2 separate regions of the Homo sapiens genome follow, and region 1 is linked to region 2. The links come from fine-mapping of genetic effects on gene expression. A gene starts in region 2. The other region holds a variant in brackets. All regions are shown on one strand. Distances are from middle to middle.

Region 1 (5,368 bases), 28 kb before region 2:
CTGGTCTCCAACTCCTGGGCTCAAGCGATCTTCCTGCCTCGGCCTCCCAAAGTGCTGGGATTACAGGCATAAACCATTGCCCCAGGCCCCCAAAATGGGTTTTACAGGGCTAATATCAAGGTGTTGGCTGGGCTGCATCCCTTCTGGAGACTCTAGGGCTTCTCCTGGAGGCTCTCTTGCCCTGTCCAGCTTCAGGAAGCTGTCCACATTCCTCAGCTCAAGGCCCTCCTTGCATCACTCTAACTGAGGCAGGAGAATAGGGTCTGGAGCCAGAGAGCCTAAGGCCAATTCATGATGACTGGATATCAGAGGCTACTCCCCTTTCAAACCCTCCTTTTTCTGCATGGCTGTTGAAAAATGAAAGTACCTCTGAGTGGTCCCCTCCTGTAACCAATCAGACTGGTCCTGAGCCTACTCTTCATTCTGATTGGCCCCCTCCTGCAACCAATCAGACTGGCTGCGGGCCTATGCATCATTCTAATTGGTCCTCTCCCACAACCAATCAGACTGGTTACAGGCCTACTCTTCATTCGAATTGGTCCTCTCCTACAACCAATCAGACTGGTCACAGGCCAATGGGAAACTTCCAGAGGGTATTCAAATCCCCAAAAATTCTGTAACGGACACTTTTCAGCTGCTAGCTTGAGTCCACTCCCACCCTGTGAAGTGTGCTTTCCTTTAAAATAGATCTCTGCTTTTGCTGCCTTGCTTTGTGCGTTTCCTCTGCCTCCCGGGTTCAAGCAATTCTCTGCCTCAGCCTCCTGAGTAGCTGGGATTACAAGCACGTGCCACCACACCCAGCTAATTTATATATTTTTAGTAGAGACGGGGTTTCACCATCTTGGCCAGGCTTGTCTTGAACTCCTGACCTTGCGATCCACCCGCCTCGGCCTCCCAAAGTGCTGGGATTACAAGCGTGAGCCACCGCACCTGGCTGAGTATTGCAATTCTACATGAGATTTGGGTTAGGACACACACCCAAATCATATCACGGGGATTTGCTGTTTCCCAGGTTGGTCTCAAACCCCTGGGCTCAAGGCATCCTCCCGCCTCAGCCTCTCAAAGTGCTGGAATTACAGGCATCAGCCACTGTGCCCGGCTGAACTATATTCTTTCTTTTTTTTGAGAAAGAGTCTTAGTCTGTCACCCAGGCTGGAGTACAATAGTGTGATCTCAACTCACTGCAACCTCTGCCTCCCTGTTTCAAGCGATTCTCATGCCTCAGTCTCCCAAGTAGCTGGGATTACAGGTGTGTGCCACCATGTCCAGCTAATTTTTTGTATTTTTTTTTTTTAGTGGACGTGAGGTCTCACTATGTTGGCCAGGCTGGTCGCAAACCCCTGGCCTCAAGTGATTTGAAAGCCTCCGCCTCCCAAAGTGCTGGGATTAGAGGCATAAGCCACTGTGTCCAGCCTTATACACTCTTTCTTTCTTTTTTTTTTTTCTGTCACCCAGGCTGGAGTGGAGTGGTGTGATCTCTACTCACAGCAACCTCTGTCTCCTGGATTCAAGTGATTCTCGTGCCTCAGAGTAGCTGGGACTATAGGCACGCACCACCACAAGCAGCTAATTTTTATATTTTTAGTAGAGATGGGGTTTCGCCATGATGGCCAGGCTAGTCTCGAACTCCTGGCCTCAAGTGATCCGCCCGCCTCAGCCTCTCAGAGTGCCTTATACTCTTTCTTTCTTTCTTTTTTTTTTTTTTTGAGACGGAATCTCACTCTTGTAGCCCAGGCTGGAGTGCAATGGCGTGATCTCGGCTCACTGCAACCTCCACCTTCCAGGTTCAAGCAATTCTCCTGCCTCAGCCTCCTGAGTTGCTGAGATTACAGGTGCCTGCCACCACACCTGGCTAATATTTTGTAATTTTTTTTTTTGTAGAGACAGGGCTTCACCATGTTAGCCAGGATGGTCTCGATCTCCTGACCTCGTGATCCGCCCGCCTCGGCCTCCCAAAGTACTTGGATTACAGGTGTGAGCCACCGCGCCTGGCTGCCATATACTCTTTCTCAAGACCTCTTCTCTTGAGCCTAGGGATGGTTCCCCTCTTGCTTACTCAACGACAACAATC[C/T]AGCCACTTTCCTCTCTTGCTTCTCTTCTGGAATCTAGAAATCCAGATCATTCCCATCAGCACATGAACCAGCTGTTTGATCTTCTCTGCTCTTCTGACCTTTCTATCAAAAGAATTGACTTTTAGCTGGGCATGGTGGCTCATACCCATAATCTCAGCACTTTGGGAGGCTGAGGTGGGAGGATCACTTGAGCTCAGCAGTTCGAGGCTGGATTGAGCTACAACGGTGCCTCCACTCCAGCCTGGGTGACATAGTGAGATCCTGTTTCTACAAAACATTTTTTTCTATTTTGAGACAGAGTCTCGTGATGTCACCCAGGCTGGAGTGCAGTGGCGTGATCTTGGCTCACTGCAGCCTCCGCCTCCTGGGTTAAAGCGATTCTTCTGCCTCAACCTCCCTAGTAGCTGAGACTCCAGGTGCCTGCCACCACACCCGGCTAATTATTGTATTTTTAGTAGAGATGGAGTTTCACCATGTTGGCCATGCTGGTCTTGAACTCCTGACCTCAGGTGATCCGTCCGCCTCAGCGTCCCAAAGTGCTGGGATTACAGGCTTGAGCCACCATACCCAGCCTACAAAACATTTTTAAAAATAATAAACCAGGCATGGTAGCACACGCCTGTAGTGAGCCATGATGTCACCACAGCACTCCAGTCTGGGTGACAGAGTGAGACCCTGTCTCAAAAAAAAAAAAAAAAAAAAAATTAACCCTGTACCTGGCCGTAATGAATCAACAATTGGAAGCTGTGTTATTATAAAGACGGGTGAACATATGGGCCCCTTTGCTGGTCCCCATCTGGCCTGGCTCTCCTGTTCTCCACCCTGCACACTCATGCCTGGGAACCTGCGTCTCCTCTCAGCCTCCCCAACGGCGGCCCAACCCACATGGCGTTTGATCTGCCCACTTCAGAGCCTTCACCTCCGGCCTGCAGCCCATCAGAGGCGGCTGGATCCCGGCCTCCTCCCCACATGGGCCTTTGAGGATGGGATGAAAGAGGCTAGGCTGAAACCAGTGTGAATGGCCAAACGGGGAACTCAGGAATCCCTGGTGCTACGCCCAGGAACAGAGGTGCGCGGCGGGGAGGCAGAGCAAGGGATGCTTCTTGGGGCTTGCTGGCAGTGCCAGAATGACCTGGGCATTTACCGACCACCTCCTGTGTGCTCAGGCCTGTGCTAGGTGATGCTGAGGACATAGTGGTGACTGGCCTGGCCGTCAGAGGGCTCACAGGCCAGCGGAGCAGATAGGCCAGTGCCCCAAGAGCAACAACCTAGTGGGAACAGGGCTGGGATGGGAAAACCTAGTTGATGCAGTCAAGAAGGGCTTCCTGGAAGAGGAGGTTCTTAAGTTCTTCACAGAGTCTATGATGCCCATCTCAACCTACCTCTTCAGCCACATCTGATGACACTTCCCCACAATCCCTTGAATCCAGCCACCCTGTTCCTTCTAATTCTTTTCATTTTTGTTTATTTATTTATTTTGAGACAGAATCTCGCTCTGTCGCCCAGGCTGGAGTGCAGTGGCGTGATCTCGGCTCACTACAACCTCCACCTCCTGGGTTCAAGCAATTCTTTTGCCTCAGCCTCCCAAGTAGTTGGGATTACAGGCGCCCGCCAACATGCCCAGCTAATTTTTGTATTTTTAGTAGAGACGGGGTTCCACTATGTTGGCCAGGCTGGTCTTGAACTCCCGACCTCAGATGATCCACCCGCCTTGGCCTCCCAAAGTGCTGGGATTACAGGTGTGAGCCATGGCCCCTGGTCTCCATCTGATTCCTGACCACTTCAAGTTCATTCTCACGTCTGGTTCATTGCACTTGCTATTTCTTTTGCCAGCTTCTCTCTTCTCAGTCCCTCATCAGGCAGGTTCCTTATCCTCACTCAGATTGCAGACGAATTCTTCTTGCAGCACTGAGCTCTTTCAAAAAATTGTCTTGGCCAGGTGCAGTGGCTCATGCCTGTAATCTCAGCACTGTGGGAGGCTGAAGCAGGAGGATCCCTTGAGCCCAGGAGTTTAAGACCAGTCTGGGCAACATAGTGAGACCTCATCTCTACAAAAAAATCAAAAAAATTAGCTGGGCATGGTGGTGCACGCCTGTAGTCCCAGCTACTCAGGAGGCTGAGTTGAGAGGATTGTTTGAGCCCAGGAGTTCAAGGCTGCAGTGAGCTATGATCACACTGCTGCACTCCAGCCTGGGTGATGGGGTGAGACTCTGTCTCTAAAAATAAATTTTAAAATAGTTCTCTTATGTCAAGTGCTGGGGCTCACACCTGTAAACACTAGGATTTTGGGAGGCTGAGGTGGGAGGATCACTTGAGCCCAGGAATTTGAGTCCAGCCTGAGGAAAATAGCGAGACCTCATCTCCAAAAACAAATAGGCCAGGTACGGTGGCTTAAGCCTGTAATCCTAGCAGTTTGGGAGGCCGAGGTGGGCAGATCACCTGAGGTCAGGAGTTCGAGACCAGCCTGGCCAACATGGTGAAATCCTGTCTCTACTAAAAACAGAAAAAACTAGCCGGGTGTGGTGGTGCACACCTGCAATCCCAACTACTCAGGGGACTGAGGCAGGAGAATCACTTGAAACTGGGAGGTGGAGGTTGCAGTGAGCTGAGATTGTGCCACTGCACTCTAGCTTGGGCGACAGAGTGAGACTCTGTTTCAAAAATAAATAAATAAATAAATAAGAAAGATAAGCTTTTGGCTGGGCACTGTGTCTCATGTCTGTAATCCCAGACTTTGGGTGGCTGAGGCAGGAGGATCACTTGAGGCCAGGAGTTCGAGACCAGCCTCGCCAACACAGGGAAACCCTGTCTCTACCAAAAAATATAAAAATTAGCCAGGCGTGGTGGCGGGCGCCTGTAATCCCAGCTACTCAGGAGGCTGAGGCAAAAGAATCACTTGAACCCAGGAGGCAGAGGTTGCAGTGAGTGGAGATCACGCCCTGCACTCCAGCCTGGGTGACAGAATGAGACCCTGTCTCAAAAATAAATAAATGAATGAATGAATAAATAAATAAATAAATAAATAAGCAAGCTTTTAAATCAAGCCCATGAACACTGTAGAAAAAAAAAAAAAAGAAAAGAAAACATTCCCTTGTTTGCAGTCTCTGTTGACTCCTTTATTTCCTGCCTTCTCCACTACAATGTAGCCTCTCCTAACCCTGTGTTCCCCAATCCCTGGCAGGGTGCCCGACACAGGGTTGACGTCCGGCAAATATTTGTTAGATGAAGGAAGGATCCAAGATCTCCAGGAGAAAACAGGGTTTGGTGAAGAGGTGGCGGGGGCGGGGATGAGGGCA
Region 2 (5,299 bases):
AGTGCTGGGATTACAGGCATGAGACACTGTGCCTGGCCTATTTTCATGTTTTTGTATTTTTAGTAGAGATGGGGTTTCACCATGTTGGCCAGGCTGGTCTTGAACTCCTGACCTCAAGTGATCCACCTGCCTTGGCCTCCCATAGTGATGGGATTACAGGCGTGAGCCACCGCTCCCAGCCTAAATCTTTTTTCCCTTTAGACTGAGTCTTGCTCTGTCACCTAAGCTGGAGTGCAGTGGTGAGATTACAGCTCACTGTAGCCTTGACCTCCTGGCTCAAGCGATCCTCCCGCCTCACCCTCCTAAGTAGCTGGGACTATTGGCGCATACCACCACACTCAGCTTATTTTTTAATTTTTTTGTAGAGACGGAGTCTCGCCATGTTGCCCAGGCTGGTCTCAAATTCCTGGGCTCAAGTGAGCCTCCCACCTTGGCCTCCCAAAGTGCTGGGATTAAGGGTGTAAGCCACTGTGAAATTTTTTTTTTTTTTTTTTTTGAGACGGAGTCTCGCTCTGTCGCCCAGGCTGGAGTGCAGTGGCGTGATCTCGGCTCACTGCAAGCTCCGCCTCCCGGGTTCACACCATTCTCCTGCCTCAGCCTCCCGAGTAGCTGGGACTACAGGCGCCCGCCATCATGCCTGGCTGATTTTTTGTATTTTTAGTAGAGACGGGGTTTCACCGTGTTAGCCAGGATGGTCTCGATCTCCTGACCTTGTGATCCACCCGCCTCGGCCTCCCAAAGTGCTGGGATTACAGGCGTGAGCCACCATGCCCGGCCGAAAAATTTTTTAAAATATTTATTTATTTATTTTGAGACGGAGTCTCACTCTGTCACTAGGCTGGAGTGCAGAGGTGTGATCTTGGCTCACTGCAACCTCCACCTCCCGGGTTCAAGCGATTCTCCTGCCTCAGCCTCCTGAGTAGCTGGGACTACAAGTGCATGCCACCATGCCCAACTAATTTTTGTATTTTTAGTAGAGACAGAGTTTCACCATATTGGCCAGGATGGTCTCGATCTCCTGACCTCATGATCTGCCCACTCTGGCCTCCCAAAGTGCTGAGATTACAGACATGAGCCACCATGCCTGGCCTATTTTCATGTTTTTAAAGATAAGGTCTCACTATGTTGCCCCGGATGGAGTCTAGTGGCTAAATGTGGGCACGATCATAGCTCACTGCAGCCTTGAACTCCTGGCCTCAAGGGATCCTCCTGCTTTAGCCTCCCAAATACCTGGGACTACAGGTGCATGCCACTGAATCCAGCTTGTTCTTCAGTAATAATAACAATAACAGCAATCGCAGCAGTAGTATTTGACTTTCTTCTGAAGGGCATTTTTGTTAGAAACAAAAGAAGAGAGAAAGAACAAAAAATTTTAAAGCACAAATAAATAACTTTTTTTTTTTTGAGGTGGAGTCTCACTCTGTCACCCAGGCTGGAGTGCAGTGGTGAGATCTCGGCTCTTCGCAACCTCTGCCTCCTGGATTCAAGCAATTCTTCTGCCTCAGCCTCCTGAGTAGCTGGGATTACAGGCATGTGCCACCACACCCAGCTAATTTTTGCATTTTCAGCAGAGACAGGGTTTTGCCATGTTGGCCAGGCTCGTCTGGAACTCCTGACCTCAAGTGATCTGCCCGCATCAACTCCCAAAGTGGTGGGATAACAGGCGTGAGCCACTGCGCCCGGCCGTATTATCTCATTTGAACCCTTGCAACACTCAAGGCGGTATGACTTATTATTATTCCCATTTACACATATGAAGACTGAGCCTCATAGAGGTTGTAAATTACCTGAGGCCTCACAGCTGCTGTAGGAGGAAGCTTCTGACATTACCACTACAATCTTTGAGCAAGCATGAAAGCCTGAAATGTCACAGAACAGGCTAGAGATGGGAAAGGAATGAGGATTTCAACACTGTCAGGTGGAGTAAGGAATCATAATTCATTGTTAACCTCCCAAACGGCCACTAACAGAGAATTTGGGGAGGCAGCAGAGTGGGTGCGGTTAGGGGCTTGGGAGGTGGGCATGCACGTGTCATCCTCTCTAGGTGTGGCCTCAAGGTGAATGACTTCCTCTGCCTCTGGGGTTCAAGCGATTCTCCTGCCTCAGGCTTCCAGTAGCTGGGATTACAGGCACGTGCCACCACACCAGGTAATTTTTGTATTTTTAGTAGAGACGGGTTTCACCATGTTGGCCAGGCTGGTCTCGACCTCCTGACCTCAAGTGATCCGCCCGCTTCACCTCCCAAAGTGGTGGGATTACAGGCTTGAGCCACGGCTCCCTAAATAAATACATCAATTTTATTTAAATCTTACAGCAATCATATGAGACAAAAGCTTTTAACACCTGCACTTTATATTCGAGGAATTAAAGTTCTCAGAGGCGACTAAAGACCAAACTCAGGGCTGAGGAGTTCCAAAGCTGAGTTGAGTTGCAAATGAATCACCGAGGACCACCGGAGCTTTCTAGCGACCCTCGCACCAGGGAACGAACCCCTGTGGTTTAAGGGCTCCAACCCACAACCCAGTTCCTTTGGCGGGAAACAGCACCCTCCCAAGGCCCCGCCCCTTCCTGGCCCCGCCCCGTCGTCTCTGGGCCCGGCTCCTGGAGATGGGTATTATTAATCTGCCTTCTATGGGGGACCTGGCCCATCTCGGGTATCAGCCCCGCCCCTACTCGTCCAGTCTCCGAACGCTCTGCAGCCAATCGGCGCCCGAGGGTCGGTCCCCGCCTTCTCAAGCCCCGCCCCCTACCCTTATCCCTGGCAGCTTCCGCTAAACGGGCTCAGAGCCACGCGGCACGCCCGGGAGGCTTTCTCTGGCTGGTAACCGCTACTCCCGGACACCAGACCACCGCCTTCCGTACACAGGGGCCCGCATCCCACCCTCCCGGACCTAAGAGCCTGGGTCCCCTGTTTCCGGAGGTCCGCTTCCCGGCCCCCAGATTCTGGCATCCCAGCCCTCAGTGTCCAAGACCCAGGCAGCCCGGGTCCCCGCCTCCCGGATCCAGGCGTCCGGGATCTGCGCCACCAGAACCTAGCCTCCTGCAGACCTCCGCCATCTGGGGGCACTCAACCTCCTGGAGCCAAGGGCCCCACGTCCCACCCAGAGAAACTCTCGTATTCCCAGCTCCTAGGGCCAAGGAACCCGGGCGCTCCGAACTCCCAGCTTTCGGACATCTGGCACACGGGGCAGAGCAGAGAAGCCTCAGCGCCCAGCCTGGGGAATTTAAACACTCCAGCTTCCAAGAGCCAAGGAACTTCAGTGCTGTGAACTCACAACTCTAAGGAGCCCTCCAAAGTTCCAGTCTCCAGGTGCTGTTACTCAACTCAGTCCTAGGAACGTCGGGTCCTGGGAAGGAGCCCAAGCGCTCCCAGCCAGCTTCCAGGCGCTAAGAAACCCCGGTGCTTCCCATCATGGTGGCCGATCCTCCTCGAGACTCCAAGGGGCTCGCAGCGGCGGAGCCCACCGCCAACGGGGGCCTGGCGCTGGCCTCCATCGAGGACCAAGGCGCGGCAGCAGGCGGCTACTGCGGTTCCCGGGACCAGGTGCGCCGCTGCCTTCGAGCCAACCTGCTTGTGCTGCTGACAGTGGTGGCCGTGGTGGCCGGCGTGGCGCTGGGACTGGGGGTGTCGGGGGCCGGGGGTGCGCTGGCGTTGGGCCCGGAGCGCTTGAGCGCCTTCGTCTTCCCGGGCGAGCTGCTGCTGCGTCTGCTGCGGATGATCATCTTGCCGCTGGTGGTGTGCAGCTTGATCGGCGGCGCCGCCAGCCTGGACCCCGGCGCGCTCGGCCGTCTGGGCGCCTGGGCGCTGCTCTTTTTCCTGGTCACCACGCTGCTGGCGTCGGCGCTCGGAGTGGGCTTGGCGCTGGCTCTGCAGCCGGGCGCCGCCTCCGCCGCCATCAACGCCTCCGTGGGAGCCGCGGGCAGTGCCGAAAATGCCCCCAGCAAGGAGGTGCTCGATTCGTTCCTGGATCTTGCGAGGTCAGCTCCCGCTCCCCCGGGAGGTGGGGAAGAGTGTTACGGATGGCGGGAGTGGTCACGTGGACAGGACGGGGCTTTGGGGCCCCTGGAGCAGAGACTTCCCTCTAGAGTCTTAGGAAAACTCGACAGGATATTGAGGGGAGGCTCCAGCCCTCGGGAGTGTGAGTCTAGTCTCCTGGGGAAGGGGTTTCTAAATCTGGGGGCCTGGGTACATAAGTGGGGTCTTATAGAGGGAGAAGAAAGTGATTTGGGGAGACATAGGAGGGTCTGCCTAGGGGAGAAAGACACTGAGGGGAGGGGACCCCAGGAGGAACTTTTGCGGGGGGAATCTTTGCGTGGTCAAGGGCCCCAAGATGGGGCTTCTAGATATAATTTGGGGCCAGGGTTGGAGAGTTTGGGTAAGGAGCCCCTGGAGGATCTGAGATCTGAGTAACTCCCACCAGGCCCTCTTCCCAGCCCTGGGGCACCCCCACACCACGTGTCACTCGGACATAACCAGGCTCTGTTTTTGGCCTCCGCTTCCCGCCCATTTCAGCTGGGGTCTGGCCGCTTCCCCTTTATCTTTTAGATCAGCCCTGCCACCCCTGCCTTTCCCTCCCGTTTCCTCCTCTGTCTGGGCCACCCCCTAGCAGGCAGCCCAGAAGAGGACCAGTTAGAAAGGGGAGCAGATTCTTTTCCTTCTCCTGGCCTCTGCCCCGCGCCCCCAAGAATGGCCTCCCCCACTTTGAGGAGGGCGGGGGGCAGAGGCCCCCTTGCGCTTGCCTTTAGGGCTTGCTCATTCAGTGTCTCCACGTTGGGGACTTCCTGGAAGTTGGGGGAAGGAAATGATGAGTCACGGAACAGGGTTCTCCAGCCTCTGGGGCGTCAGTGCAGGCTGAGATGCGAGACTGGGGCAGGCTTGGTGTCCCGAGTTGAAGCCTGGGAGCACCTTCTGGCTGGGGGAGATTAGCTGGGTCCTGGCCCAGCCTGGGCCTGGGTGGTACAGGCGGACCTTCAGGCAGGCACACCCACTCCGAGGCTGTTTATGAGCACAGGCCTCCCCTGCGTGCCAAAACAGCTGTAGCTCACACTTGGCCTGCCACACAGGCTTATAACCAAATGACATACAGCTGGACACATTCACGCAGACACTCAGCTGAGGCTGTAGCATCTCGACAAACACATGGCCAGATACCAGCGGTCATACACACGCTCACTGTGTACTAAGACCCCTGTAGCACAGCCATTCAGTGATGCCACCAGCCACGCCAACATCTAAACACAGGCTCAAGAGCACACAATACACACTCACATACACACCTATGTGGTCACACACCAATAA

Evidence for each region. PIP is the estimated chance that this variant, and not a neighbour inherited with it, causes the effect.
Region 1: its variant is the best candidate, but not a certain one, in a credible set for the expression of SLC1A5 in whole blood (TOPMed, PIP 0.71).

What each region holds. Positions count from the first base shown.
Region 1 is chr19:46,814,056-46,819,423 of GRCh38, reverse strand. No RefSeq gene overlaps it. Among named protein-coding and RNA genes, the nearest start is that of SNAR-E, 14 kb to the left of the region's middle. The variant C/T (reference allele first, on the strand shown) is at 2,072.
Region 2 is chr19:46,786,079-46,791,377 of GRCh38, reverse strand. SLC1A5 (solute carrier family 1 member 5) reads left to right here and starts at 2,784. Exons shown (of 8, transcript NM_005628.3): 1 at 2,784-3,978. The coding sequence starts at 3,413. RefSeq lists silencers at 2,467-2,626, 3,597-3,646, 3,657-3,706 and enhancers at 2,572-2,866, 2,515-3,116, 4,923-5,299.